7 linked regions of the Homo sapiens genome follow. The protein of the gene in region 6 interacts with the protein of the main gene of each other region in a biochemical or structural test. Each region holds a gene or a part of one and is shown on either strand. Other genes may lie near its edges.

Evidence for each region.
Region 1: the proteins of DOCK4 (region 6) and FRMPD2 interact in a test that uses a peptide from one of them, tested with the Homo sapiens proteins (one large-scale study listed by IntAct).
Region 2: the proteins of DOCK4 (region 6) and MPP3 interact in a test that uses a peptide from one of them, tested with the Homo sapiens proteins (one large-scale study listed by IntAct).
Region 3: the proteins of DOCK4 (region 6) and LMO7 interact in a test that uses a peptide from one of them, tested with the Homo sapiens proteins (one large-scale study listed by IntAct).
Region 4: the proteins of DOCK4 (region 6) and PDZD8 interact in a test that uses a peptide from one of them, tested with the Homo sapiens proteins (one large-scale study listed by IntAct).
Region 5: the proteins of DOCK4 (region 6) and PDZD9 interact in a test that uses a peptide from one of them, tested with the Homo sapiens proteins (one large-scale study listed by IntAct).
Region 7: the proteins of DOCK4 (region 6) and USH1C interact in a test that uses a peptide from one of them, tested with the Homo sapiens proteins (one large-scale study listed by IntAct).

The regions. Positions count from the first base shown.
Region 1 is NC_000010.11:48,155,813-48,160,115, forward strand, and holds the end of FRMPD2 (FERM and PDZ domain-containing protein 2), read right to left. Parts: intron 1,559-4,303; coding exon 1,510-1,558; 3' UTR 750-1,509; downstream 1-749.
Region 2 is NC_000017.11:43,808,957-43,813,124, forward strand, and holds part of MPP3 (MAGUK p55 subfamily member 3), read right to left. Parts: intron 2,250-4,168; coding exon 2,156-2,249; intron 1,960-2,155; coding exon 1,851-1,959; intron 123-1,850; coding exon 1-122. UniProt on the Homo sapiens protein: Participates in cell spreading through the phosphoinositide-3-kinase (PI3K) pathway by connecting CADM1 to DLG1 and the regulatory subunit of phosphoinositide-3-kinase (PI3K). Stabilizes HTR2C at the plasma membrane and prevents its desensitization.
Region 3 is NC_000013.11:75,810,830-75,814,329, forward strand, and holds part of LMO7 (LIM domain only protein 7), read left to right. Parts: intron 1-3,500.
Region 4 is NC_000010.11:117,365,260-117,369,427, forward strand, and holds part of PDZD8 (PDZ domain-containing protein 8), read right to left. Parts: intron 1-4,168. UniProt on the Homo sapiens protein: Molecular tethering protein that connects endoplasmic reticulum and mitochondria membranes. PDZD8-dependent endoplasmic reticulum-mitochondria membrane tethering is essential for endoplasmic reticulum-mitochondria Ca(2+) transfer.
Region 5 is NC_000016.10:21,998,072-22,002,921, reverse strand, and holds the start of PDZD9 (PDZ domain-containing protein 9), read left to right. Parts: upstream 1-1,805; 5' UTR 1,806-1,874; coding exon 1,875-1,905; intron 1,906-4,850.
Region 6 is NC_000007.14:111,867,079-111,871,246, forward strand, and holds part of DOCK4 (dedicator of cytokinesis protein 4), read right to left. Parts: intron 2,578-4,168; coding exon 2,496-2,577; intron 1,077-2,495; coding exon 906-1,076; intron 1-905. UniProt on the Homo sapiens protein: Functions as a guanine nucleotide exchange factor (GEF) that promotes the exchange of GDP to GTP, converting inactive GDP-bound small GTPases into their active GTP-bound form. Involved in regulation of adherens junction between cells.
Region 7 is NC_000011.10:17,495,957-17,499,632, forward strand, and holds part of USH1C (harmonin), read right to left. Parts: intron 2,316-3,676; coding exon 2,206-2,315; intron 1,659-2,205; coding exon of another isoform or gene 1,563-1,658; intron 858-1,562; coding exon 802-857; intron 1-801. UniProt on the Homo sapiens protein: Anchoring/scaffolding protein that is a part of the functional network formed by USH1C, USH1G, CDH23 and MYO7A that mediates mechanotransduction in cochlear hair cells. Required for normal development and maintenance of cochlear hair cell bundles.

The sequences.
Region 1 (4,303 bases), on a different chromosome or scaffold from region 6:
TTACTTATTGGATAACCTTGGGAAAGCCCCAAATGTGTCATGTGTGAAATGGGGGTGATGACAGTCCCCATGTTGTAGGTCGTTGTCATGGTGCAAGGGCCATGGTAAGTGTTCTGTGAAAATGGCCATTACAATGACGCATGACCCCCAAAGAAGATGCAGGGGAAACTGGGCAATGCCCACAGACCATCCCCCACCCCCAGTTGAAGTGGCTTGATAGCACTGAGCCCTGCTCTGGTCAGAGCTCAGCCCCAGTCCACCCAGCCAGAGTGATACCCACCTGAGGGCACCGTATTCCAGGGCCACAGGCTCCTCCAGGTCTTCCCATTCACTCCCACTCTCTGGGGACTCTTCTGGAGGCAAAGACTCTGGGACAGTGCCCCAAGAGCAGAACTGTGGCAAGGGAATGGTCCCAGAATCTGCCTCCAAACATTCTTCACAGGGTAGCTGGCCTTGGCATGTAGAGTTGATGGTAAGATACTCTTCATCCTCCGAGGTGGGAGAAGGGGCTCCACATGGATGGTACATGTCACCTTCCCCATCCTCCCCATCCAATTCAGGACTAGAATACAGAAGCCCATGTTTCTTCCAGCCTTGATAAAAAAAATTCCTCACCCCACCTTCCCCTTGCCTTTTAGAATACTCTGCACGACACAGGCCCGTGAGACTCAGCCAGTGTTCAAACAGCTCATGCCAGAGGCTGCTCTGGGCACCAGGAAGCAAGAAACTTATAAGGCACCAACCCTGGCTTTGAGGAGCCCCCAATTTAATGAGAAGTTGGAGCAGTAAAGAAATGTTACAGTCCATGTAGGAAGTGCTATGATAGAAGCAGCTGGAGCACCTTACCGAGCTCAGGAGACCGGGGGGATGGGGGGGCTTGCCAGAGGGCACAGCATTGCAAGCAGGGCAATGACCCAGTTCTAAGACAGACTCGTCACATGGCAAGCAGAGTCGGTCAGACTTTGGACAAGTTTATTGACTTCTTTGGAACCTCAGTTTTCTCATTTGACAAAACTAGATGGTCAAGAAGCGTCTAGGATTATTGGGACACGTAAATTACATAATTCTGACACAGCCCCCCCAACTCTGGGTTCCTGGTATGGGGTAAGTTTTTAGTAAATGTGAGATGCTGTGATTAGTACTGTGAATATGATGGCTATTTCAACAGAAGAATTATAAAGAAAGGGCTTCAGGAAGGGATTGGGAGTGACTCAAGCAGGCAACCATCAAAGCACTTTGTGCAAAGATCAGGTCCTTTTCTGAGCACTGAAAATTTGCCTATTTAGAGATGCGGCAAGCTGAAGTGACATTTACTCCCCGCGGAAGGACACAGGAGGCAGACGAGTGGTGAAGCTCATTATCTGGTGATGCAGCCGCAGACGTAATGGTCAAAGAACAAGACTTCCAGGGGCTGCCCCAAGTTCGCCACACACGCCTCTTGATTAGAAAGAATAGTCCATGCAAAGGTAGGGCATTTTACACAGCACTGCAGACATGCAGAGAAGGTGCTCAGAAAATATCTGTCGAAAGTCTGGTTAGAGGAGATGAGAAGGAATATCTAAGAGAAAAGCACAAAGATTTAGCAAATACATGGATCCTCATTTCTCAGCCTCCTTACCCCCACCCAAATCAATGGGTTGGCTTTATTATGTGCTGCTGCTCTCCTTCTCCTTTCCTGCATTGCCTCTTTCTCTTAAAATTGGCTCTGGTGCACCCCAATAGCTACAAACCCTTAGATACCCAGAGAGCACGTCCTCCTCCCCAGTAGAGCCGGAAGCATCTGTCCCAAACTGAGCTTCACTGTGAAAGAGACATTATTTCCACTCATGAGAGCTACAAGGTATGTGAAATAGTGAATTTCATGTAAATATATGCACACTCAAGTGTATAAAAAAGAAATTATTCTACAAAGACTGAAGAGGAACACTCACTGTCAAAAGACATTTTTAATTCTTGAGCATTTGCAGGGAAAATTGACTTTAAGCTTGGCTAAATCATGTAGAAACTGTGTTTTCTTATAAACATGGGAAAGAAACATTCAAGAAGTTTTATCAAAGAATGGGAAATCTAGCCTATTGCCCAGGCCTAGGCTCACCACTGTCCCCACCACCTCAAGCAGCACCCCCTTCCCTCCGTTCTGAGCTCACTAAGCCTTGTTGAGGAGTGGAAGATGGCAGCTGTGTGTGTCCATTGGCCACTGCAGCTGCCTCAGTGTCCACACCTCACCTCCCACCCGTAGACTCCCTCCACCTCTTCTAATAAGCTCCTTGCCCTCTGGTTTTGATTCGGAGCTCCAGCTACTGGCTCTGCCTGGACAGAGACCTAGGGAAGCCATCAGCCTGAGAGGCAAGAGGCAAGGCTTCATCTGAGGTTCAACCAAAGAAAAAGCGATTTGCTCCCCACTTGTCCAGGGGGACTTGGTGGTCCCAAGGGTGAAATCTTGGCCATCATCCCACCACAAGTTGGGAGAACGACTGCCTTTCCTTCTATCCTTTTGCACGTGCCATCAGGCTGCCCTTGGAGATTTGACCTGGGGCTCAACTGTGGACATAGGGAAAGGGTGAATAGGGAATAAAGAGGCACCAGAAGCCTGTATGCCTATTTCACGGAAAGGGCAAGACTTGGAAATTTGGAGAATTTCATTAAGATAGAGACATTCTTTCACAGCAAGCCTCATGTTTTGCATGTGGACATGATGGGTAAAGAGGTGGAGTTCTTCACCCAGGGTTCAAGGCCGGCCAGCTCATGGCTAATGTAGCAGGACTTTCAGCAAGACCCTGATGCTGTCGGAGTACACGGGGCTCTCTGCTCACCCCCTGATTCTGTGTAATGATCTCAGCTTCTTCCTGCCCTCACTCTCTGCCCACCAAGCTGTCCAACAGAAGGAGGCTTTTATAGACAGATGATAACTAGAGGAGAATCTGGAGATTTCACGTGGGCTTCCTGGCCAGCCATGTCTCCCATACAAACCAGCAGGACCCCAGAACCAGGGTCCCCACCAAGTCCTGAAACTCTTCAGTGGGTATTTTTAAGAGGAATCCCAGTTCAGCTCTGAAGTCAGTGAAACCATTCTGAAGGCTCTGCTTGCTACAGAATGTTTACTGAGAAAAGACACTGTGCCCAACTTTTCTGGACAGCTGTCCTTTAAAGACTTGGGCCACCAAATTCATCTCTGCCTTTCAGGAGGAAATTCATAGAAGCAGATTGGGCATTTCAGGCTTGAAATATGAAGGTATTATAATTGTCCTATTTACTTACGGTTAAACTCACAACAAAGTTTGGGGTTTGTGTCCCTTCATGTCTCCAGTTCTCCAACATCAGGCCCCATATTGAGGTCTCCATTAGCCCTGATGACACAGCTGGGAGCCCCAGGTCTCTGCTCCTGACAACTGCATTTAGTTTTGGCAGGTTGGATTTACAGTATCTCTAAGACATCAAAGTAAACAAGTTCAACGGACTGCCAGATTTGAAGCTCAGATGATAAATCTGAGCTGAAGTACAATACTTAGGATTTGTCACAGTAGTGTGGACAGATACCCCTGGGTATCTGGGGATACCCAAGGATAGCCCTGGGAGCCTGTAAGGTGTAAAGAGAATCCTGCTAGAGGCAGCACCCAGGATCCAGCCCAGGCTCTGCTGCCTCCCTCACTCCCCTCAGCCACACTCCAACCCAAGAGCAGGCATGACATCTCCCTCACCTGGCAACTGCATCCCTCCCTAACTACTCTGACATCACACCTGGCCTGGCCCCTGCAGTTGAGTGAGATCTCTGGCCTCCTAATTATCTTTTGCTATTCCAGGCAGTGCCCTTCCCCAGAAGGTATATCATAACTTTAGGTTCATTTCCAGGAGTCCTGCTTTATTTTGCTTTCTTAAATAAATGACCATCAAGATTTATACCATCACTTTCACAAAGTGATGCTTGTTGAACTTACGTGCATTTTACTTACATGAGTTTAATGATATGTGCTAGGCAAAAAGAGAAAGAGAAAGATAACCTTAAACATTCTGCAAAGACCAACTTTCCAACCGATAAGTGTAAGCCTTGAAGTGCACATGAGTGGGAGAACTAAATCTTTCATCCTCTCAATCTGTCTCTGTTTCTATTGGGCCAGCATTTAAAGACAAACATTTTGCATACAGCATGGCCCATAAATGCAAGCCTCCTAACTTCATCTGAGGCTCGACCAAACAAAAAGTGATTTGCTCCCACACCAAGGGGCAAATAACATCACTCCTTCCAAAGTGATGTTTCAAGGGTAATGAGACTTGATGTGATTGTTGCCTTCTGCCTACCTTTAGG
Region 2 (4,168 bases), on a different chromosome or scaffold from region 6:
AATGGGGCTGCTGTGTCCTCACAAGCTGGGGACATAGGTGGCGTTTTTCTTTTTTCCTGAATTGCAGGCTTTACAAATATAATATAGGGTTTAAATTCTGAGGTCCTCAGTTGTTTCAGTGCCTGAGAAAGAAAGTTCAGGAATATTATATACTTTTGAAGTGTTTTGTTGTGAAATAGACTTTTGAAAGCTCAATAATCGTGTGCTTCAATACCATAACCTCAACAGCAAAGGTCCTGGTTACATGGGTCCCATGACAATGGACTTCAACTGGGCAGACCAACTGCTCCTTTTCTCATCCTTCACTTTGACGTTGAACTCAGCGGGGCCCTGAAGTCACACTCACTGCCAACAGAAGGTTCCTAAGCCTCAGCTCAGAGACAGTTGCTGTCTCTCTTAGCTCTGACTCCTCCGGCTATAATTAACCTTCTCAGGCTCCTCTCCACCTTCCATTTCTGATGGGTGAGGAAGCAGGAGTCAGTGTGTATCTATTTAGTCAAATGTCATCAATCGGACTACATTATTACAAACTTTGTGCTATTACATCTCCTCTTGGTATTCAAAGAAGAAAAGGTTTGCAAAGCAAATGAGATTACTGAACAGATCATTTAAAACTGTAGACTGTAGAAACTGCACTCTTGGGCCAGGTGCGGTGGCTCACACCTGTAATCCCAGCACTTTGGGAGGCCGAGCCGGGTGGATCACGAGGTCAGGAGATCAAGACCATCCTGGCTAACATGGTGAAACCCCGTCTCTACTAAAAATACAAAAAATTAGCCAGGCGTGGTGGCGGGCACCTGTAGTCCCAGCTACTCGGGAGGCTGAGGCAAGAGAATGGCGTGAACCCGGGAGGCGGAGCTTGCGGTGAACCAAGATCGCACCACTGCACTCCAGCCTGGGTGACAGAGCAAGAATCTGTCTCAAAAAAAAAGAAAAAGAAATTGTACTCTTGATTAATGCATTTTATCTAGAAGTAAGGGCTCCACTTGGAAACACTAGTATTAAACTGCTATATGCATTATCTGCACCCTTGATCAATAAAGTGATCAATAAAATCACTTTTCAAAGAAAATTTTGAAACTCAGACTTTTAATTTTGATCACTAACTCCCTGTAAGTCCAAATGAGTGTTTTCCTTTATAGGCATAACGTGCTTTTTGGAATATATTTCAAGCAAACTTCTTTAAAATAAAGCCTACAGTTTATAGCATAAAATCAGAGATCTGTTTCTATAGAGGGGAAAAAAAATCCCCAGATTGAGTTCAAAGCTTGGAAGTTTTTCTAAAAGACAAGGTTAAAAAGATGGTTAAGCCCCTGCTGAGTCCACAGCATGCTGGGTGTGCAGGAGTGGAAATGTTTTTGAAGCACTTCCCAGGGCCGTGTCTCCCTCCCTCTTTTTCCCCTTTAAACTGCTCTCCTCACTGCCTCCCTGAGTGGTTCTCTAAGCCACTGACTCCACCTGCCCTGGTTGGGGAGGGGGAGGCCTGGCACCGAGAGCTCAGCCCCAGTTTCACCTGGGTACTGACATCTAATTCTCTGGCACATTGCAATGGCCAGTCAGCGCCACCAACTATTGCATGATCTGTTCCACGCAGGAGTTACTAGCCTGGGTCTGTGGGCCACCAGAGTGTCCACAAGCTCCCTACAATTAATGCAGCATTTGTGGATAGAGGGGCATGTTTTGGGGTACAAGGCTTTCATTTGATTCTCAAAGGAAGACCCAAAGAAATTGAACAGCCAGTGTTCTAGACTAAAAATTCCTTAGACTGAGGTTAAGTGTTGTGTAAAATGTACAATCCCCTAGTTATAAATTCCGTTAACCAGAAATGGCCAGCAGGCCCAGCAACTCACTTCTGGCTCCACATCCACCAAACAAACTTTGTTTTTGGCCATAACAGCCTGAATGGCCTCCAGGCTGGTTCCATACAGATTTTCCTTATATTCACCATGTTCCAGGAACCTAAAACACCACCAAAGGGGAAAAGGCCTTTAGTTCCTCAGCTTTCCTAAATTAGCAAAGCAAAGGGGACCTCCCAACATGACTTCTCTCCCGCTTCCCCCATCCTTTCCGGGAGTCCTCCCAGGAGCTCTAGTGGAATACAGATACAAAAACACACAACTGCCTGGAGGGCCAACTGGCCCATCAAGCAACGTACTTGTTGTGATGTAAGTCGGCCTCAAATGCTTGCTTAGACACAAAGTGATATTCCACTCCTTCCTTCTCATGGCTCTTTCGGGGCCTGGTGGTATCTTTTAAAGAAAGAAGGAAAGCTGGGCAAAGAGATGTCACATCACAGCACGCAGGGACAGCAGCAGGCTTAGGCACTCATTTGGGAGTTCACTGCTGCTGTGTCTAAACCAGGCACTTCCACCTCATTGCATGTCCCTGTATCAGGCACTGTGCCTTTCCAGGCAGGCGTATCACTGATTCACACAACAACTCTTTGATGTAGGCAAAAGGAGGCTTTTCCTTTTGCAGCTGAGAAAACTGAGGCACGGAGAGGTTCAGCACTGTGCACAGTGACCCACAACCAGTAGAGAGCACAGCCAGAATCGGTCTCTCTGCCAAATGCCCAGCTTATACCCTTAACCACTCTGCTAACTGACTCCCTGATGCTGTGTTTTTTTTTTGTTTGTTTTGTTTTGTTTTTTGTTTTGAGACGGAGTTTTGCTCGTTCCCCAGGCTACAGCGCAATGGCATGATTTCGGCTCACTGCAACCTCTGCCTTCTCGGTTCAAGCGATTCTCCTGCCTCAGCCTCCCGAGTAGCTGGAATTACAGGCATGTACCACCACACCCGGCTAATTTTGTATTTTTAGTAGAGATGGGGTTTCTCCATGTTGGTCAGGCTGGTCTCGAACTCCCGACCTCAGGTGATCCACCCGCCTCAGCCTCCCAAAGTGCTGGGATTACAGACATGAGCCACCGCGCCCAGCATATGCTGTGGCTTTTAAAGAATCACTTAAGGGACCCCTAGTCCTAACTTTTAATTCTTCATTGTTTTTTATTTTTTGAGAGCAAAGGAGCCACACATACACTTGACCCTGATGTATGCTTTTAATTCTTTAGTCAATTAGTTCTCATCTCCAGAAAAAGGAGACAGGAAGACAGACCGTCCCTATATAGATCGGATGTGTTTCAGCAAGGCTGGCTCTCAAACAAAAATGTTGAAACACATGGTGTTTTCTCATTGATTTCCATAACAGAATTGGGATGCACACTTCTGAGGAAAATCAGGTCTTCTGCAGAACAAGGGCACACACAAAGCCACACACACAGTATTTTCCAAAAGATAAAATGGGATCTTGAGGCACTGTGTCTTCTGGCCCATGGGAACCACCCAGGGTATGCCCTGTGTTCTTTCTGTGGCATCTTAGTCCAACCTCCGGTAGAGGTGCTAGGGTCACTTTTCCAACCATGTCATCCCCCTGCTTAAAAACTTGTATTTATCTATGGGTTACATTCTAAACACCCTAGCTGAGTATCTGAGACCTGCGTGATCTGCCCAACCTCTCAGCTCCATTTTCCAGCACACCATCCACACTAATCTCCCCGGTCCCCAACACTGCTCCGTCCCTTTGCACATGTTGTTTCCTCTGTAAAGAGAACTATTCCTTTCTCTTCTGCCTGGAAAACTCCTATTTACTCTTCAGAACCCAGCATAAAAGTCACTGCCTCTGGGAAGGCTTCCCTGACTCCCCCAGTTTCTAAAACAAAGGAGGAAAGTCTCCTATCTGTGGAGTGCCTAGAAGCAGGTGGGCCTGACCATCCAGGTACCTCTTCTCCAGGGGGTGGATCCAAGGGGTTCTGAACGATCAGTGTGTGAGCAACCTCTGCATGTCCTGTTTCAGTCCACCTGAAACTTGGAAGGCCGTGGCTCCCTGAAGCCCTCCAGGTCCATCACAGGTGTGCTGCCAGGATGGCCTCCCCAGGGCCACCACCTCCCCCACATCCCTGCCACTTCAGATTGGGCTGTGGAAGACAGCTCTGACAACCCACAGACTAGACGCTGGGCCCAGGGGCCCAGGGAGAGCGGTGTGATCAAAGCAAGGCTTCATGGTTGCTCTGCCCCAGAACACTCTGAGGAGGCCCCATTAGGGCCCCCACAGCACCCCTCTCAGTAGCCACCAGGCATTCACACTGCATCCCTCTGAGGCCAGGGGGACTGA
Region 3 (3,500 bases), on a different chromosome or scaffold from region 6:
TGAGTTAGAGAAGAAGACAGAAACCTAAAACCAAAGCTTGAAAAGCTAAAGATTTTTCTGGATTAGAGCTAACAGCAGCAAATGTTTTCTATCCCAAGATAGTTGTTTCGGATAGTACAATATTTGTTTTAAAGGCTGTTGTGCATGCAGTTCAATGCCAAGGTAACTACACAAATAAAGCAAGATTGTCTGTAAATTGAGACTGAATAATATATGACATGTCAAACAGTGGGAAGTATTATAATATGAATGTGTCCTCAGAAAATTCAAGTGTGTTTTGGACCACTTGAAGTCAAATAAGTCAAATTTATAACAAAGGATTTCTCTCTAGTCTGTCAGTTACCACTACTTTTTCTTTTTCTTTCTTTTTTTCTTTCTCTTTTTTTTTTTTTTTTTTAAGAGATGGAGTCTTGCTATGTTGCCCAGGCTGGTCTTGAGCTCCTGGGCCGAAGCATTCCTCCTGCCTTGGCCTCCCAAAGTGTTAGGATTACAGATGTGAGCCATCATGCCCTGCCTACCGGTGCTTTTCTTAAGTAGATCTGCTGCAGTGAAAAGAAAATAGAAATTTAAATTGGATTAAGTGTAGGCTTTTAATCTAGAACTTGTTTCATATTTATGCTGGGTGATATTTCTCTGAACATAATGTACGTTGTCAAGCTTGGCATACTTACCTGGAAAAGCATTATTGCTCAACATGCTGTCATTGAAAAATAACTGCCTATAACATGAATGCTTTCTTTTTTGTAAGGACTGGGTTAAAGAGAAATGTGCAGTATCTTTTGAAGTCTGAGACTGTTAATTTCTGGCTTGCTCTTTGTTTGGCGTTTAACACCTGTCAGTTTGTCTGTTTATTTTTAAGACGCTTTGTATGTGGTAGTCGTTTCTTCTATGTGCTTTCGTCTTGCATGGATTTATGTCTGTATGGTTTCATGAAACTTGAAAATTTGGTCATGTGTTTTGGCAGAAGCAATTTATGACAAATTTTTTTGTAAGAATATATAGAAATAATCTTGTATGTGATTAAGCTGTTGAATCTGTTGCCAGTATTAATAGGAAATGAACACTGATTTCACATGAAGTTGTAATAAAAGACAATTAAGTCACCCACATTTCACTTATGGGTTTGGCCAAAAGATTCTGTAGAATTATAAAGGCTTATGACAGCAAAAAAGAAAGGGAAAAAAAGCCAATTTCGGTTATTTCTAGGGATTTCCCTCCACCCCCAGGAGACATTTGGCAATGTCTGGAGGCATTTTTTATTGTCTCATTGGGTGGGTGGGGGTGTGTGTGCTACTGGCAACTAGTGCCTTCATAGCCAGAGATACTGCTAAATGTCCTACAGTACACAGGAGTGCCCTACAACAAATAGTTTTCTGGCCCCAAAATGTCAGCAGTGGTGCTACTGAGGAACCCTCATTGAGACTATAAATCTATAAATGAAAAATCTACATCACATTGCCTTTTTATTATAGTGTATGGTAATTCCAAAGCCTCTTGCCCAAGTTTTAGCATTGATTGCTCTTCAGAGAATTCCTATAGTACCTGATGGAAATATACTTAGAGGTACATAAATCAGTATGTTCCTATCTCCCTCTGAAAGTTGGGGAGCCTTAACCCTAGTATCATGGAATTTCTGTTTGCCGTATAAGGCTATCCATGATTTTATATTTGAGAAAATTTGCCACATGCTGGTTCTTTTCGATCCTTACTCCTTAGATAGTCACCTATAAAGTTCCTGAAAGTGAGTTCTAAAAGGAAATGCCTTAAAACTAGCCAAAAAGTGACAGGAGCATAGTAGGCAATCTGCATAGTGGGAGAAGAGAGTAAGACTTTAGCAACCTTGTTTTATGATTGACACCTTCTTCCTTAAAGTTCCTCTTTTTCCTTCTAAATGTTATTTTTAAAAAATTCTATTCAACAGAAAGGCAAGATGCTAGATCTGTATTTTTTGGAAAAAATCCAGTTGCAGTTCTAAATTGGAGCCTTTCCAAATAAGGAAATACAAATGAAGCAGGACTTGTAAGAGACATACGATGTGATTTGCCAGCTAATCATCCTTCATTCAACACAACATACTAGAGCTGTGCAATCCTTCATAGTTTTCCCAAACAATTTTCCTGATGCTATCTTTGGTACTTATCTCAAATCTGTGAGGCCGACAGATAGGGATGTGGAGATAGAGAAACAAATATTGCCGCTTTCCCAAGGACATGTGGCTTGTGAGTGGTAGAACCAGACTAGGGCTTCGCCTCTGAGATAATTCACGTAGACTGCTTGGCGAGGTTGCTGGCACACAGTAAGCACTCAGAAGCTGAATATTATGCCATTAATGCTGATAAGGGAGGGAAGAATTCTTTGTGATCTGGCTGAGAGACTCCTTCCTCTACTACAAAAGTTCTGGATTTTATCACTGTGGTCCGGGGTGACCTCTCTGATTTGAAGCAGCTTGGAGAGTTAGCTTTTGGGAGATCCCAAACAATCATGTTTGCTTTAATGAGAATTAGTATATGGCCCAGACGGTTTTAAAAATGCTACCCACACAGCCAAATCCAGTTCTCATAACAATCCCTTCCTCACTTAGCAGGTGAGAAATGGGGGCTCGGAAGTGATCTGATGTGTGTTAGGGTGGGGTGAAAACTGGCACCATGGCTGGGCCTGCAGCCCTCCCTTCCTGGCTTGTTGCAGTGCCTGGCTCCAGCTGCTGTACAGTGTGTGCAGGCTTGATGTGGGTAACTTTTTGTACCCTAGGGAGTGAACTGTGCTCATGTTCCTGCCTTACACAGGGACTTGTCTACTCCAGAGTGTATTTGGTTCACTTTGTTCACATTAAGGACCACCTGTGTGCCAGGCTGTGCTCCGTGTTGGGGGCACCCAGGAGGAGGATGCAGCCTCTGTCTTGAGAAGCACATTTCATGGGAAGACACCTTAGCATTGCATGGTGTAGGAGGATTAGGGCCAAAGGAGAGCACCCCTGGGAGATGCTGGGCTTTCTAGCCTTCCTCCCATCAAAAGATTATTAAAATATTAGCATCCTTTTTTGTTTTTGTTCTGGAGTTTATGTAATCTCATGTGTTGAGTGTCTAGATACCCCTCATACCTGGTTCTTGAAAAATTTTTCCTGCCTCTTCTTAGTGAGTCTGTCATAGTATTAGTTCAAATAGCCTCATTCTTCATAGTATGACTTACGTGAATCTATATTCTCAAATTCACACAAATCAGCTTTATAAGTAGTCATACCTAGTTAGATATATTACATTAATAGATCCATCTATATTCATATATGTCCTCATATATTCTCTCAATATAATTTATTCCTTAATAGTCCTTAATAAATCCTATAAAACTTTCTTCATAGAACTGTGGATAGCCATAATAATCTTACAAAAAGAATTAGAAACATTTTAAGTATAGCAAATTTTGCTGGATTAAATGTGAGAAAACCTACCTCATTCTTACCGTAGACATTGAATGAGTATATCCTGCCTGCCTTGTGCTGCTAA
Region 4 (4,168 bases), on a different chromosome or scaffold from region 6:
TAATGGTCAATGTAATTATAAGCATCTGTTAGAACAAATGAAGTAGGTATATATAGAAAACTCAAGATACAGTAAGTTTTTTAAAAAAAGATGCTAACAATGAAGTATTGAGTATGATCCTGCCTTTATAAATTAATAGCAAATTATAATACATTTAGAAAAATATGGAAGAATAGTTCCCGAATTTAACAATAGTTTTAAGAAAAGATATTACAGAAGATTTTCACTTTGATACTACATATTTTCTAACAGCTTGAATTTTTAAAGTGAGTTTGTCGCTCATTTGAAAGGGAAAAGAATATAATGTGTCACCTAGAAAATATCTGATATATATCTAGTAAAATTAGTACTGCTCATCTAAAGGTAAATAATTAACGTGCATATCACATTTTTCCCTAGTACAAATACAGGAAGTGTACAGTTTTATGCCAGTCTTAGCAATTTGGCAAGAGAGATTTTGAAACTACTCTGTAAAACACCTGCTAATGACCAGGTAGTTGGCTTTAAAACTTTCCAATTAAGTGTGATGTGCTCTGATGCCATGCCAAAAAAGTGTCAGTACGTCCTATGACTCTGAGGTAAGAACAAAGTCATTTAATAATACTTGTTTCCTGGTGACACTGTTCTGAGAAAACAGAGAATATCATGGGAAGAAATGTTGAGTCAGTATTTAACTTTTAAACAAGGTATTTAGTAATAAGAACTCTAACTTGAAATTTCATATATTCTTACTGAACTATTGATCTAGAGTCCCTCAGCCTGCTATATGAAATCTTAAGAGGAAAAAAAAAAGAATCAAAAAGACATACACTTCATAGGATAGAGAGAGGGATTACCCCCTCCTCCAGCATTTTTAGAAACGCCTGAGCCATATGAATCCTATATACATTTTAAGAAGGTAAGCAAAATAATGAAGTGGTTAATATTGATTTCAGCATGTTAGTTTTAGTTATGTTTACGGTAACAAAGTTGTATACTTCTGTTTGTGTTTATTTTTCAACCTAAAGTCTAAGGACCCTAAAAAAGCTTCAAGGGAACTATGAACTTAAATGAAATATTTTTATGCAGAAAATTTGTTTTCTGCAGAAATTTTCTGCAGGTTTCCAAAGGACAGGACCCTCAAAGACTTAAAAGTACTTTCAATGTACACATATATAGCTTCTTTTTTGGTAAACATTGTAACTGTTGAGGGGGGTGTATTTTTAGGGTTTTTTTTTAAAGTTTAGAGCAGGGATCAGTGAATCTTTTCTGTAAAAGGCCAGATAGTATTTGTGGGTACATAAGGTCTGTCACTACCACCACCACTACCACCACCACCACTGTCACCACCATTACCACCACCACCACCACCACCAGTACTTCTTTTAACAACGTCAAATATAAAGTTTAAGAATGTAAAAACCATTCTTAATGCAGGGGCCTAACAGCAGCTAGTTTGCAGACCCCTGATTTAGAGTAACAGTTGGTTTATCTCTGAAGAAATAATAGAGCATGAGCTCTGGAAGTCCAGGACCTTTTACATTTAGGACTTTATATCACTAATCCTCCGTAAATCGCATATTTCCACATCTGTAAAACTGAGATACCAACCTCTCCCACATAGGAGTTTTAACTATTGAGATTGCAACTGCATGGAAATGCCCACACAGTGCCTAATGAATACTTAGCAAACAGTGTTTTATTAGCCCCACCCTGCTCATATGATAGATTGTTAGTAATACTTGTAAGTCAACGTTTAGTATTTGATCAGGCATGCTCCTTCAACACAATCTACTTTATAATGATCTGCTTTGGCTATTTCCAGGAAGAAACTGTGGCTTTTTGGGATAGCCAATATACTTGTACATTACTGATTTGAATTTATAGCCTCCCGGCAGGGTGTGAATCACACCTGTAATCCCAGCATTTTGGGAGGCTGAGGCGGGGGGATCACTAGAATCCAGGAGTTGGAGACCAGCCTGGCCAACATGGTGAAACCCTGTCTGTACTAAATATGTGAAAATTAGCCGGGTGTGGTGGCATACGCCTACAATCTTAGCTACTTGGGAGGCTGAGGCAGGAGAACTGCTTGAACCCGGGAGGTGGAGGTTGCAGTGAGCCAATATAGCGCCACCGCACTCCAGCCTGGGCAAGAGTGAGACTCCGTCTCAAAACAAACAAACAAACAAACAAACAAAAATTATAGCCTCCTCAAAATGACTATTCTCCCCTCAATGAATAAATCAAATTTCTAGAGCAAAGATGTAATGTATCAATACATTATTCTCCATCTAAAGTGTTTTAAAAGCTGAAATTAAAATAATTCAAAGCAGCTGGAGGAAATCCAATGTGCAAGAAGTAAAATCAGCACTAAACTGGGTATTTAGGTGGAGTACACTTAGGTGTGCTAAGAAAGCTAATGTGGTGGCTCATGCCTGTAATCCCAGCACTTTGGGAGGCCGAGGCAGACAGAGCACCTGAAGTCAGAAGTTCAAGACCAGCCTGCCCAACATGGCAAAACCCCATCTCTACTAAAAATAAAAAAATTAGCTGGGCATTGTGGCACACGCCTGTGGGAGGCTGAGGCAGGAGAACTGCTTGAACCTGGGAGGCGGAGGTTGCAGTGAGCCGAGATCATGCACCTGCACTCCAGCCTGGGCAACGAGAGAGGAAAAAAAAAAAAGCTAAGGTCACAATGCATTACATACGGTACCACAGTAATCAGGTGTTTGCCTTAGCAGAGCAGAGATATTGATCTCTCCTGTTCCAGTTTCTCACAAAACTGAAGGGCTTAAATATTTCCAATGCCACTAAAATAAGCTTTATGTGTTCTTTGTTTTCCCTAGAAAGACTAACCCTATAATAGCATGAACTAGTTTATAACCATTTTTATCACGTTTACTATACCCACCGCAACACTAGGTAGTATGCACTAAGCACTTACTGAAGATAAATGACTATTTTTTAAATGACATAATTATTCATCTCTAAGACAATGATCTTGCAATTCAACTTATACAGAGATATGACGAGATATAGAGATATGAGCAACAGTACAAGAAAAAGCACAACAGGTTAAAAATTAGCTATTACAAGATTATTCCAGCATAGCTAGAGTAATGCACAATGCCATTGTCTATTCTCCCCAAATATTAAAGGTTAGATTTCCTATCAACATTAGTAAGTAAAACTGTCACTATTATAACCATCAAGGAATTTTAGTAGCTATTTTAAAATATTTTCCAATGTAATAGAAAGGAAAAAAGTATGAAAAAGTAAATAAATACAACATATTACACTTGACTTTACAAATGATTTTGTCAGTTTTCTGTGAATTTACTTTGAAAGATTTTGAGATACGGATCACTCAATTCATTAAATTCAAATATACTGTCAATAAGTTGATGCCCCCCTTTTTGGAGATCAGTGAAGTAAATGCTTACATAGTTATTAATGACCCATTCCACTAAAGCAAACTATCCACCAAACTCGAACAAAAAGGAGACACTATCTACTTACCATCACTACATGGTAGAAAAATGGATTGCATTTCAAGGCATTTTTTTTTTTCTGGCAGAGTGACTTTTTAAAATTCAACATTATATTGACAATGTTTTTTTTTTTTTTTTTTTTTTTTGAGACAGTCTCACTCTGTTGCCCAGACTGGAATACAGTGGCGCAATCTTGGCTCACTGCAACCTCCGCCTCCTGGGTTCAAGCAATTCTCATGCCTCAGCATCCCCAGCAGCTGGGACTGCAGGTGCGTGCCATTTTTAGTAGAAGCGGGGTTTCACCATGTTGGCCAGGCTGGTCTCGAACTCCTGACCTCAAGTGATCCACCCACCTTGGCCTCCCAAAGTGCTGAGATTACAGGCATCAGCCACCACGCCAGGCCTGACAATGTCTTTTATTTATTTATTTATTTATTTTTACTTTTTGAGATAGAGTCTTGCTCTGTTGCCCAGGCTGGAGTGCAGTGGTATGATCTCGGCTTGCAGCAATCTCTGCCTCTCGGGTTCAAGCGATTCTCCTGCCTCAGCCTCCTGAGTAACTGGAATTACAGGCATGTGCCACCATGCCCAGCTAATTTTTGTATTTTTAGTAAAGATGGGGTTTCGCCATGTTGACCAGGCTGGTCTCGAACTCCTGACCTCAAGTGATCCGCCTGCCTTGCCCTCCCAAAGTGCTG
Region 5 (4,850 bases), on a different chromosome or scaffold from region 6:
GACTTGAGGTGGAGAATAGCCCTTTGTACTGGTCTCTACGACACAGGTTTTATCTAATGAGAAATCTGTCCTGGCGCTCACGCCTGTAATCCCAGCACTTTGGGAGGCCAAGGCGGGTGGATCACCCTGAGCTCAGGAGTTGGAGACCAGTCTGGCCAACATGGCAAAACCCTGTCTCTACTAAAAATACAAAAATTAGCTGGGCGTGGTGACACAGGCTTGTGGTCCCAGCTACTCTGGTGGCTGAGGTGGAAGGATCGCTTGGGCCTGGAAGGCGGAGGTTGCAGTGAGCTGAGATTTTGTCACTGCACTCCAGCCTGGGTGACAGAATGAGACCCCATCTCAAAAAAAAAAAAAAAAAAAAGGAACCTAAAGAGGAATCTGCCCTGGCTTATTGTCTGTGTAGAGCCACAGAAACAACAGAATAAGCTTGGACATAACCAGATCTACCATGGAAATCTTTGCACAGTGCCTGACACCTAATAGGTGGTTAATGACTGTTTGTTGAAGGGATGGGGCAAGGTGCTTAGCCTCTCAGTTTCATCAGACCGGGGATAACACCAGGGCCTACCTCATTAGGTTTTCTCTTTCTTCTAGAATTTACTAACTCATTTATTCATTTTTATTTTTTGAGACAGGATCTTGCTCCATCACCCAGGCTGGAAGGTGGTGACTCAATCATAGCTCACTGCAGCCTTGAATCCTGGGCTCAAGTGATCCTCCCATCTCAGCCTCCTGAGTAGCTAGGACTACAGATGTGCACCACCATGCCCAGCTAATTTTTAAATTTTTTTTATAGAGAAAGGGTCTCACTATGTTGCCCAGGCTGATCTCAAACTCCTGGGCTCAAGCAGTCCTCCTGCCTCAGTCTCCTGAGTACCTAGGATTACAGGTGTTAGACACCACACCTGGCCTAGAATTTATTTTTAATAATTTATATTTTCCTAAAATTGTCCACTTCATCTGTTTTTTAAGTACAGGTTTCAAGAGGATAGAGCCTGTGTTTCTGTGTTTGTCTTGCTTACTGTTGTGTCCCCAGTATCAGTAAATGACAGAACAGCTCCCTGTAAATACTTGTTGTATGAGTGAATGTGTGTGGGAGGAAGAATTATCTTGGAAAAAAGAAGGAAGCATTAATAGTGCCTCTCCTAATAGTGACTCATTTTTTTTTAGGCCACCCTGGGGCCTTTTCTTATTCAAAACATTCATGAAAAAAAGTGCAGTTCCAAAGCATTGGAGCTACTGATGTAACAATTTTTTTAAAATACCATTATTAGAAGTGCAGCGGGGGATTCTCTGATCTTCTAGGTATTCTGTGATCTCCTGTGATCTTCTGGCTGTGATCTTCCTCTGCAGACCACCTCACATCTTTGAGACACCCTCCTCTGTGCCTTCTCCCCCTCCCTATTTCTTAGGTTCACCAAGAATGAATGAAGAAGCCAAGCGCGGTGGCTCATGCCTGTAATCCCAGCACTTTGGGAGGCTGAGGCGGGCAGATCGCTTGAGCCCATAGTGCAACAGTTGTGTTGAGCCTGAGCAACATAGTGAGACCCCCACCCCCTGCCCGTCTCTTAAAAAAAGAAAAAGAAAAGAAGGAATGAAGAAACCACCGTGGGTCAGGCACGGTGCTAACCTCTGCAGAAGTTTCCATACAGTACAATGGTGTGCAATGCCCACGCCACGTTTTGCAGGGTCCACGGGAAGCCTTGCGGCGACCTCACTGCCGCCCAATTTCTGGGCAGTGGCGGCGCAGCGCCCCCTGGCGGCCATCCCGAGGGCAGTGCCCGCGGGCAAGGTTCGAAACTGTTGGCATTGGGACTGACTCCAGCCTCTGCTCCGGGAGGCCCTCCCGGGCTGCCTGACCTCCCGGGACCATGCAGAAGGCCTCCCACAAAAACAAAAAAGGTAACTGGGGAGAAGGAAGCGGGTGAAGAAGCCCTGGGGACCAAGCCTTCGTCAATGTTCCTCCTCTGTAAAATGGCAACGGTGCACTCTTGGCCTGGGAGATAACCTCTCTCCATCGTTGTTGTTATCATCATCATCATTATCATCATCATCATCATCATCATCATCATCATCATCATCATCATCATCATTTGAGAAGGAGTCTTGCTTTGTCCCCCAGGCTGGAGTGCAGTGGCGCGATCTCAGCTCACTGCAACCTCTGCCTCCCAGGCTCAAGTGATTCCTCTGCCTTAGCCTCCCGAGTAGCTGGGATTACAGGTGCCTGCCACCATGCCCAGCTAATTTTTTATTTTTAGTAGAGATGGGATTTCACCATGTTGGCCAGGCTGGTCTCAAACTCCTGACCTCAAGTGATCCGCCCGCCTTGGCCATCGTTATTTTTATCAAGGTATAATTTCCATGCAGTAAGATCCCCCCTTTTAAAAGTACAGCTACCGTTTTGACAAGCTATACCCACGTTGAACCACCCCCTCCATCAAGATAGGGAACAGTTCCACCACTCCCTAAAATTACTTTGCAATGCCCAGTTGCAGCCAAACCCCACCCCACTGCAGCTCCTCACACCCCCATCTGTTTTTTACAGCGTTTTTTTTTTTTTGCCTTTTCCATGGAGAACATCATAAAAATGAAATCACATAGTAAGGAGCCTTTAAAAAATTATACCAATGTAAATAGGGACTTTGGCCCTTTCATTTTTATTAAAAGGGCACATAAATCTTAAAATAGCATATGGGTCACTGTATTTTATTTTTAGAGACAGAGTCTTGTTCTGTCGCTCAGGCTGGAGTGCAGTGGTATGCTCCTGGCTCACTGCAGCCTCCAATTCTTGGGCTCAAGCAATCCTCCTGCATCAGCCTCCCATAGCTGGGACTGTAGGCATGCACCACCACATTCAGCTAATTTTTTTTTTTTTTTTGAGACAGAGTCTTGCTCTGTGACCCAGGCTAGAGTGCAGCGGCATGATCTTGGCTTACTGCAACCCCCGCCTTCCAGGCGGGTTCAAGCGATTCTTGCCCCTCAGCCTCCAGAGTAGCTTGGATTACAGGCGTGAACCACCACGCCTGGCTGATTTTTGTGTTTTCAGTAGCAACGGTGTTTCACCATGCTGGCCAGGCTGGTCTCGAACTCCTGACCCCAAGTGATCCGCCCACCCTCGGCCTCCCAAAGTGCTGGGATTACAGGTGTGAGCCACCATGCCCAGCCTAAATAGAAGAGATGAGGTGTCACTATGTTGCCCAGGCTCTAATCACTTTATACTTCTGCTAGCCCCCAGGTGGGCTTACTGAAGGATGCAGACTCCTGCACTGAGCAATTCTTGTTCTTTATGGCTTTTTTCCGCACAGCATCAGGATTTGATAAGACTTGAGGTTGGCAAAGAGGCTGAACTAGGCAGGCAGGTGCCAGACAGCCTTAGGCTTTTTCACTGCAGGGCTGTTGTCATTTGGACTGCTTGTCCTTGGGAAGGTTGACATTGCTGTCTGACTAGCCTTGTAGCAAAACCTGTAAGTCTTTCATATTTTAGTCTGGTGCTTGGGGTCTGGCTCTCCGAGGACCATAGTGCTGCCTCCTCCACCTGGTTGTCCCCAAACACAGCAGCTCACTCTTTTCTGAGCTCACCCTTTTCCAGGGAGGAAGCATTGAAGATCTCACTTTCAACAGCAGTAGGATCATCTTTGTCAGTACCTTCGGGTTCCAGGGTCCCTGCCACTGGGCCCTAGCGAGCACTTTCCTCAGGTTTCATGTCTAATAGTTCATCCTGAGCATGCACTGTGTGAAGAGCCTTTGCCTAAAACACATAAAATACCTTTTCCATCTTCAGTGTTTTCCTTGTCGTGGTTTTCATCCTCTAATGAAATTAATTGACTCAGCTCCTGCACTGTTACATCTGTGCTTTCCTGCTGGGTGAGCTTCTTTTCTTCTTTCTCAACTAGTTTTTTCAGAGGGTTTTGTAAGTGCTTTAAAGTAGTGACTTCATATGGCTGATAACCTGTGAAGCTCTCATGGATGGCTGCCATAGTGTGAGAAGTCTTCTCTCCAAAATGAAGCAGAGTGGTCTGGTATGTTGCTAGCATTTGAGACAGGAGATTGCATGTATTTACTTGCTCCAAGAAAATCTACATCCAACTTCACTTTGTCAAGGTTTTTTTCTCTCTCTTTTTTTTTTTTTTTTTTTTTTTTTGAGATGGAGTCTTGCTCTGTCACCCAGGCTTGTAGCTGGGATTACAGGCATGCACCAACATGCCCAGATAATTTTTTTTTGTTTTTGAGACAGAGTCTCGCCCTGTCACCCAGGCTGGAGTACAATGGCGCCATCTCAGCTCACTGCAACCTCTGCCTCCTGGGTTCAAGCGATTCTCGTGCCTCAGCCTCCCAAGTAGCTGGGATTACAGGCCCGCGCCACCATGCCCAGCTAATTTTTTGTAACTTAGAGACAGGTTTCGCCATGTTGGCCAGGCTGGTCTCGAACTCCTGATCTCGTGATCTACCCGCCTTGGCCTCCTAAAGTGCTGGGATTACAGGCGTGAGCTACCGTGCCTTGCACAAAGTTTTTTTTGTTTTTTTTTCAAGATGTACTTGTGTTTCTTGCCTTCCCGAACTTCTGCATTTGCTTATAGAGGTCTGGATCAAACTCCTGAGACATGTCCTTCTTCTGTAAGGAGCCTTTTGAGTCTGGCTTCTTTTACTTAACCCTGCTGACTTTTAAAAGTGGGCTCCTGGTAGCTTACCTTATAAGCATATTGAATTTACAAACTGAGATAGGAACCACTGGACCTTGCCCAAGATGTGACTTCTCTGTTTGCTCAGGAACCAGAGGCTCAGGCAGGGCGTATCCTGCCCCCAGTTGCTCCCAGAACCCTGAAAGGTCTCTGAAGATGGTATCTTGT
Region 6 (4,168 bases):
CTCTATAAAGAAGAGAGGAACAAGAATAGACCTCTCAACAGTCAGAAAAAATACAGCACATTATCAGAGGGCTGGTGCATTCCCGGTGTTTTGCTTTCTGAACATCACATAGTACCAAATCATAACAATACTGTTAAGGATCTAATTTTGTCTCCTAATCTCCCTTTTTATGTCCCAGTTCTCAATGATTACAAGTTTCTCTAACCTCTAGGGCATGGTAAGAGGCTGCTTCTCCTTCTGACAGGTTTTTAACCAAGTCATTAGAATTAAAAGTATACAAGAAGAATCAAGAAAGTATAGGGAAAATATTCAGAATTACCTCATGGAACATATTCAAGGCCATGCTATTTGGGAAGTAGATGGATCCTGTTCTTAAAAAAAACATGTGGGGCTACTTCCGGTAATGGAGTTTGGCGGCAGCAGCAGCTCTGCACTGGTCTTAAAAGATCAGTCCCAGGATGATTAGGGTCAAGTTCAATAAAACAAAACAACATGCAGCTTAGCTGAGTCCAATATAATGATTCTCAAGTTGACAGATTAAAATGCAGTGAGAAGCTTGGGGAAAAGAACTGCAAGAGATTGGCCCTAGTGAAATTCCTTCCCCAGGGCTGGTGGTGACAGCATGTCCAGTCGTCAGTATGTGTTCTGGTAACCGGAAATGAAGCTGATGCAAACCAATAGCCTCTCCATGCAGAGAGAGAAGGGAAAGGCAACCCACTTCTGCTCAGCTGGTACACAGAAGGTAGGGGAATTTTAAAAGTCTACTCATAAAGTTGGTTAAGCTACAAATATAAACTGGAGCAATTGACTTCTGATGGAGAAAACATTTGATTACGCTGCTGTGTAAAAATAAATAAACTGCACTTATCGTTTTCTTCTATTCAGCATAGATGAAAAGAAATTACCTGTGACTGAGATAATGCTCCAGACCCTTTGCTCTCTTGCGAAAGAAAGAAACGGACTGACATGAGAAGCTCCTGAATGCAGCAGCGGAACTCCTCTTCGTTTTGCCCACCAGTGGCAAGGGAAAACAGCCTTCGAGATTGAACTATATACTTAAAAATGTATTCTTGTGCCTTAAAAATACAATTTTTAAAAGTTAGCTTCAAAGGAGACAAAGAGTATTTATTTAGCAATGACACGGCATAAAAACCATGGTATGGCATTAAACTTTTACATTATTCATGTAGACACCAAGGCCTTGTGAGGCTTTTTTGAACAGTATTTACTTTAAGGGGGAACAGCCACTTTTCTCTGATGCCTAATGAGAGAAAAAAAATTTAAAAACACTTTAAATTTAAAAGAAATTTAAAAGAAATAGAATTTTAATAGAAAATTTAAAAACACTTTAGCCGGGCACGGTGGCTCACGCCTGTAATCCCAGCACTTTGGGAGGCCGAGGCGGGTGGATCACCTGAAGTCAGGAGCTCGAGACCAGCCTGACCAACATGGAGAAACCACATCTCTACCAAAAATACAAAACTGGCCAGGCATGGTGGCCCATGCCTGTAATCCCAGCTACTTGGGAGGCTGAGGCAGGAGAATTGCTTGAACCTGGCAGGCGGAGGTTGCAGTGAGCAGAGAATGCACCATTGCCCTCCAGCCTGGCCAACAAGAGCAAAATTCCGTCTAAAAAAAAAATTAAAAAAAAAAAAATTTTATCATTCTGGAGTATGATGAACACTAAGTGTTTTTGACCCTCAGATGTTTTTTAAATTTAGTCAACAAAAAGATAACTGTTTTTTAAAAAATAATTTTGTTTTGACAGGTAGTACTCTTGCCACTTAGCATTTTACCTTCAATCAGCCCAAATTACAAATGAATAATTCACAAAATGCTATTTTATAAAATGTATACATTGTCTACTTAAAGCTACTGACACCAAATAGGATGGTCCTCAACAACAGGAATCAGAAGACTACCAGGGCTGTTACTGGACAATTCCTTTAAGAATTTGTACTCTTTTTCAACATGTTTGCAAGTAAGGGATTAGTATCTCCACAGACAACTGAGCATATGGTGCCCAGCGATGTGGGCAGCGTTAAGCCACAAGACCCGGTAAAGCCTCAGGTTTCCTCATTATAATCCCCGCTAAGCCACCCTATTTGCTCTTAAAATTTAACATAAATGGTTCTCCGATGGTCTCTGTCAGGTTGGTGGAAGCAAGAGCCAGGAACTTCTAAGCTTAACTGCCCCATATAGACTTCTCTCATAAACCCTCCCTCTCTCCTGCTCATCTTAGACTTCACTTCAAGTACTCTCCAGCCCAGAGGAACAAGGATTCAATCCTGAACAGTTTCCAGTAGACTACCCTGGCAAAGTCCCCTTCAAATTTCATCAGCTCTCAAGCAGTCACAAACTGATTAAGATCCTTGAATTGGAATGTCAGTAATACATCATCACCCATTACTGTCTGTGTAGAGGAACCAATTAGTTTAAGCATCAGCATGCAACAGCTTTGTTAGACTCTGCTGTTATCAACAGCATGTTATCACCTTCAGCACCTCCTGGATATGCTCTTGCCGCTCTGCTTCTGTGATCCGGTCCACGTACCATTTGAGCACTTTGATGAGATCTCTAAAATACAGGGGAAAATGTGCAGAATGTAAAATTGGTCTAATTCTCAATTAAATGCCAACAAATCCAACTCTTAACTATATCATGAGGAGGTTTCTTTTCCCATCAGTTCTCACATTTTCCTGTCAATCTGCTGTATAATAATTTTACTAAATCTGCAGATCAACACTGCCACCCTTTTCAAAGCTTAAGGGAGAAACAACACTCAATCTGGACATATTCCATAGCCCTGCTGTTTCTGGTAATGCCTCCAAATGGGTGAACACAAATATTGGAGAAAAGGACTGTGCCCAACCAAGTGCCTGGCAGTGTGAGTGCCATGGTCAATACTGTAAAACTGCTCATTGGGATTTCTTTCCCAGTGACCACGTAAACAGCTGGATGCAATATCATTAGGCTGCAGGCAAAACGGGGTGGGAAGGAGGGATGGAGACAATGCCTCCCCACTGCTATGCACACCTTATGGATTTATCAAGCCAATTTTCTGACCCATGAGAAGAACCTGGCTTATGTCAATATGTGCCTTAGGAGAATTTCTAGAAAGGCCAAGGTAATTTTTTTTCCTGTTTTGAAAAAATGTAAAAACAACAGCCCACAACTCTCAAGATGACAGTCTTACACCTTGAACTTTGGTCAGTTCTTGGTTTCTCTTTTTTCTTTTTCTTTTCTTTTTTTTTTTTTTTTTTGAGACAGAGTCTTGCTTTGTCACCCAGGCTGGTGTGCAGTGGCTTGGCTCACCGCAACCTCTGCCGCCCTCCTGGGTTCAAGCAGATTCTTCTGCCTCAGCCTCCCAAGCAGCTGGGATTCAAGTATGCACCACCACGCCCAGCTAATTTTTGTATTTTTAGTAGAGGCCCGGTTTCACCATGTTGGTCAGGCTGGTCTTGAACTCCTGACCTCAAATGATCTGTCCACCTTGGCCTCCCAAAGTGCTGGGATTACAGGCATGAGCCACTGTGCCCAGCCAGTTCTTGGTTTCTAGGAAACAGTTTACCCAGCAATGTTTCTCTGGGTCAGGGGAGAATACTTGGATGTGCCAGTAGGTAGATGTTGGTGGAGTGCTATTTTTTAAGATAACATGCTAGTGAGTTTCTGATCACCCCCAGCCTAAGAGGATTCCACAAGCCTTATTTGTCTTTTTAAGATCCTGCTTTCCTGGCCAACCGGAAGTGTGAGAAATTATACTCTTGTTTTCTAGCTTCCAAAGACAATTTAACTTGGAAGCAGTAACCTCCTCACACTAGGGCCCAAATTGTTAGGCTGAGTGGGCCGATGTTTCAAAACTATTCCTGCGGTTGCATTTCACTCTCAGCAAAAAATCACACTGATGAAGTGTCAAGTCTAACAAAAATACCTTCATTCATTTCGATGTTGGAGACGTCGATCTTAACCTGTCATGGCTGGGAATATCCAAGTAAACAGGATCAAATGCTTATCTGATAACCTATTAACCTTTATATATTACATAGATGGGGGAAGGATATCAACCTGATTTCATGCTTTTTAAACTCACCTCAGGGAACAGTCAGGCATGTGCATGCCCACAGGTGCTTAAGGTATAAGGTAGAAATATGGGAGAACAGCAAGGACC
Region 7 (3,676 bases), on a different chromosome or scaffold from region 6:
TGAGGTGAGGATGGAGGTGAGACACCACACAGAGGCAGAGAAACAGAGAAAGGCAGACAAAGAGGTAAGAATGGATGCAGAATGACAAGGACAGAGGAACAGGGACTCAGAGACAGGGATGAAGAGAAACAGGAAGAAAGAATAGGAGACAGTGAGAGAGAAAGGGGACCGGGATGAAGGGGAAGGAGGGGGGCAGATAAGATGTTGACAGGAAGGAAGGAAAGGGTGAAAGAAAGACAGAGAGGGAGGAGGAGAGAAGACAGAGAGACCCACAGGACACAAGAGACAGACACACAGGGAATCACAGAGAGAGACAGTCTAGGCCAAAGCTCCCTGGAGATCCCACAGCGTGGGGACAAAAGCCTGTGGTCCCGGCTGCCTAGAGGCACAGTATGAGTGAATGCAGTTAGACATCAGGAAGACCTTCCAGAGAGTGAAGGATGGACACAGACACCTTCTAACCATCTAATAATGGGGCAGGGGATAAAGTTCTGAGTGGGGAATTAACAATCCTGAGTCTTTTTCCCAACGTCTCTGCTTACCCGGTCTAAGACCTCATGCCTCAATTCCCCATAGTAGAGAAGAATTTGGACAAGACTGCCCGGGAGGCAGCTCAGACACTGCTTAAGGACAATGACTTGGCTCTAGTCCAGGAGTTTTCTAGGAGCTCTGGCTATGAGAAGCTGCGTGCTTGGGCCATTCCTTCAGGCTGGGAGAAGGCTGGGGATGGGCTGGAGAAAGGTGGCTGAGATTCTGGAGAAGGAAGAAGAGGTCTCAGGCTAGGTGCTTGCACACACTTACAGCTCATCGTCATACTCCTTTGGGGGGCAGACGGCAACCACAAGGTCGATCCAGTCCTGTGGGGAGAAGCCGTGTGACTCTGGGGCACACTCAGTTGGATGGTGCATCTGCCCCGGCACTCCATCCCCATTTCTGGGCCCCATGGCCTAGGATCAGCCAGGCTGCACCTTCTTCCCACGGGCCCACCTGGGGCCCACTGTGACTTCCATGGTCTGAGGACGTTTCTAGTCTCTGAGGCTTCGGGACCATAGAGGACAGGGCTGCAAGGCCCTTGAATGACACTCAGCTCCCAAATGTCAATCTATGGACCGGGGACAGGCAGCAACCTCAGAATCACTTGGGGGAACTTCTTAAAAGTGTAGGCTCGTAGACTTGGCCCCCAGAAGTCAAGGGTGAGTCCTGGGAAATAGTACTTTTAACAACCTCTCTGGGTAATTCCGACGCACTTTCTGATGCACAATCAAGTGGGGGACTTCTGGCCCAGCTTTTTGATCCTAACACCTGAATCCCTTTTACTGCCATCCTTGACTTGCCCCTCATTCTCCCTCCTTGGCTTAGGTGTATCCCCTGAAAAGTATTGGAAATATCACTGGGCCCCTCTACCATGAGCTGGTTCCTAATATTGAGCTGAAATCTCTCTCTCTTTCCCCAGGACTTCCCTCCATCCAATCCAGGTCTTCCCTCAAGAATCAGAGAGAACACTTCTGCTCCCTCTGCCCTAATGCAGACCTTCAGATAATCAAAGATAGTCATCATGTTACCCGTGAGTCTTCTCTTCTCCACATCCCTTCATGTGGGTCCCAGGCCCATCTGGTCAGCTTCCTCGGCACTGAACTTAATACCTCAGGCTCGGCTGCCTGCATACAGTTGCACAGGTTGTGCATTGCACACCATGAGCAGGCACCATTCACACTACAGTCTGTAAAAGGGCACCCCCTCAGATTATGTAGTGCACAGCCTGGGCAATCTTATGCAGTGGCCGTGATCCAGGTGGGTGTCTAATGAGTGCAGAGCAGATTCCCACCAGCCCCTCCTTCATCCTGGGTTCTCTGCTTTTGTTAATGCTTTCTGGTAGCCCCCAGAATTCTCTTGATTCTTGTTCAGTGTGCACTTAGAAAAGACCTTAAGTCTTTTTCTTGGGTGACCTGCCATGCCCTGGCTTCAAGAGTCTGTTTAAGCCACTGGCTTTTTGGATCCAAGGTCAGGAATTGACATCTATTTTTCTGAATCCCATCTTGTCAGATTTAAACCACAGGCTGGATGGGGTATGGTGTCACCAAAGTGTTGCCTGGACTCCAGATGCCCACCCTGGAATGAGGCATCCTATTGTGAGACCTGGCTGCAGAGGCCAGGGTTTGAGGCAGGCAGGTGAGGGAGGAAAGGAGGGAGGGGCCTTATTCTTACCCCGCCCTGATTCCAGGCCTTCTGCAGGGCAGCCTCAGCCTCAGCCAGGGTGTAGTCTGTCACAATCTTGCCGTTGATTGCCATGATCTCGTCCCCTTTCACAATGCCACCTGCAGGCAGATGAGGCTGATTGGCCAACTGGGCTGTATGTGACACGTGCCTGGCCCAGGGCTTGGCAAAGGGGGGTCATTGCCAGACAGCAGAAGAGACCTGAGCCTGGGTTCTGAAAGCTCATGTGGACTCAGAAAGCATGAGGGGAAACTAGCCACCTGGTTAGTGGCTAGTCAAAGGGCATTTAGTCCCTGTCCCTTCCACACCCCCTCACCCCAGCTCAGGAGAACCTGGATATCATTGATGATGAGCCTCTGTTATTACAGAGGGACACAGACCTGCATTTCCAGCACAGTATGAGGCCTGAGTCAATTCTGCCAGCCGGCCCTCCCTGTTGCCAGTCATGCTGGTCTGTTCAGGTCCCTGAGCTGCCATGCTCTCTCCTGCCTCAGAGGCTTCATGTCGCTGTTCCCTACCTTGCTTTCTCTTCTTCTAGGTCTGAGAGGAAATGTCAGAAGGGGCTTCTCTGACCCCCGCTCAGTCGAATGTAGATCTTGCCTATTCTCTCACAGCATCCCAATCTTTTCTTATTTGGCATTTTCCACAATTCGTAATCATTAATCTGTTTGTTTACTGATGGTCTCTCCCACCACACTGTCAGCTCCACGTGGGCAGGGATTGTCTTTTTGGTTCACCATAATATCCCCAGCACTTAACATAATGCCTGACACAAAATAGGACCTCAGTAGATATTTGTTGAATAAATGAAGCTGTAATAAGGTGCTCCTGAAAGAGTTGCCTGGGATCTAATAATTTTGGGGAAAGCTGAGTTATAAGCTGAACAGAGCTACTCACTGCAGGATTTGTCAGTCTTGAATGTGCTAACATGCACTGCAGCTTTCCAAGAGGTAGACAGATTGTGCGTGGTTTTCCACACCTCTTTGACATCAGAGCCCTTTTTGGAGGAATTTCTCCCAGTCCTGATGTCCACAGAACACTCTCCAGGTTACATTGAAATAGATCACCCAGGAGCCTTGTGGCATGAAGGCCCATAGGAATGTGGTGTATGATACTGACAATGGTGGCCATGGTGGCTTAAAACACACGTGCTCCTAGGGAAGCTTCATCAGTGACTAGTTATGTTCAAAGCAGTGCAGGACCAAACCACAGAAAGCAGTTGCCTCTGTGCAGTGCAACTGGGGATGGGTGACTTTCACCTTTTCATTTTGTACAAATCCATGACAGAGTCTCAGGGGCAATAAGGCAGTGGTTGGGTTGGGGCTTTGTAAGTGGGAAGGACCCAGGAGAGTCACCCATCCATCCTGGTCCCCTCTCTCTGCTAGACACAGCAGGCAGGTATCACAGAAGTGTCACCAGGTGACAGAGAAATGAAGACAGAAGAAGAAGGTGGGGCCTGGGT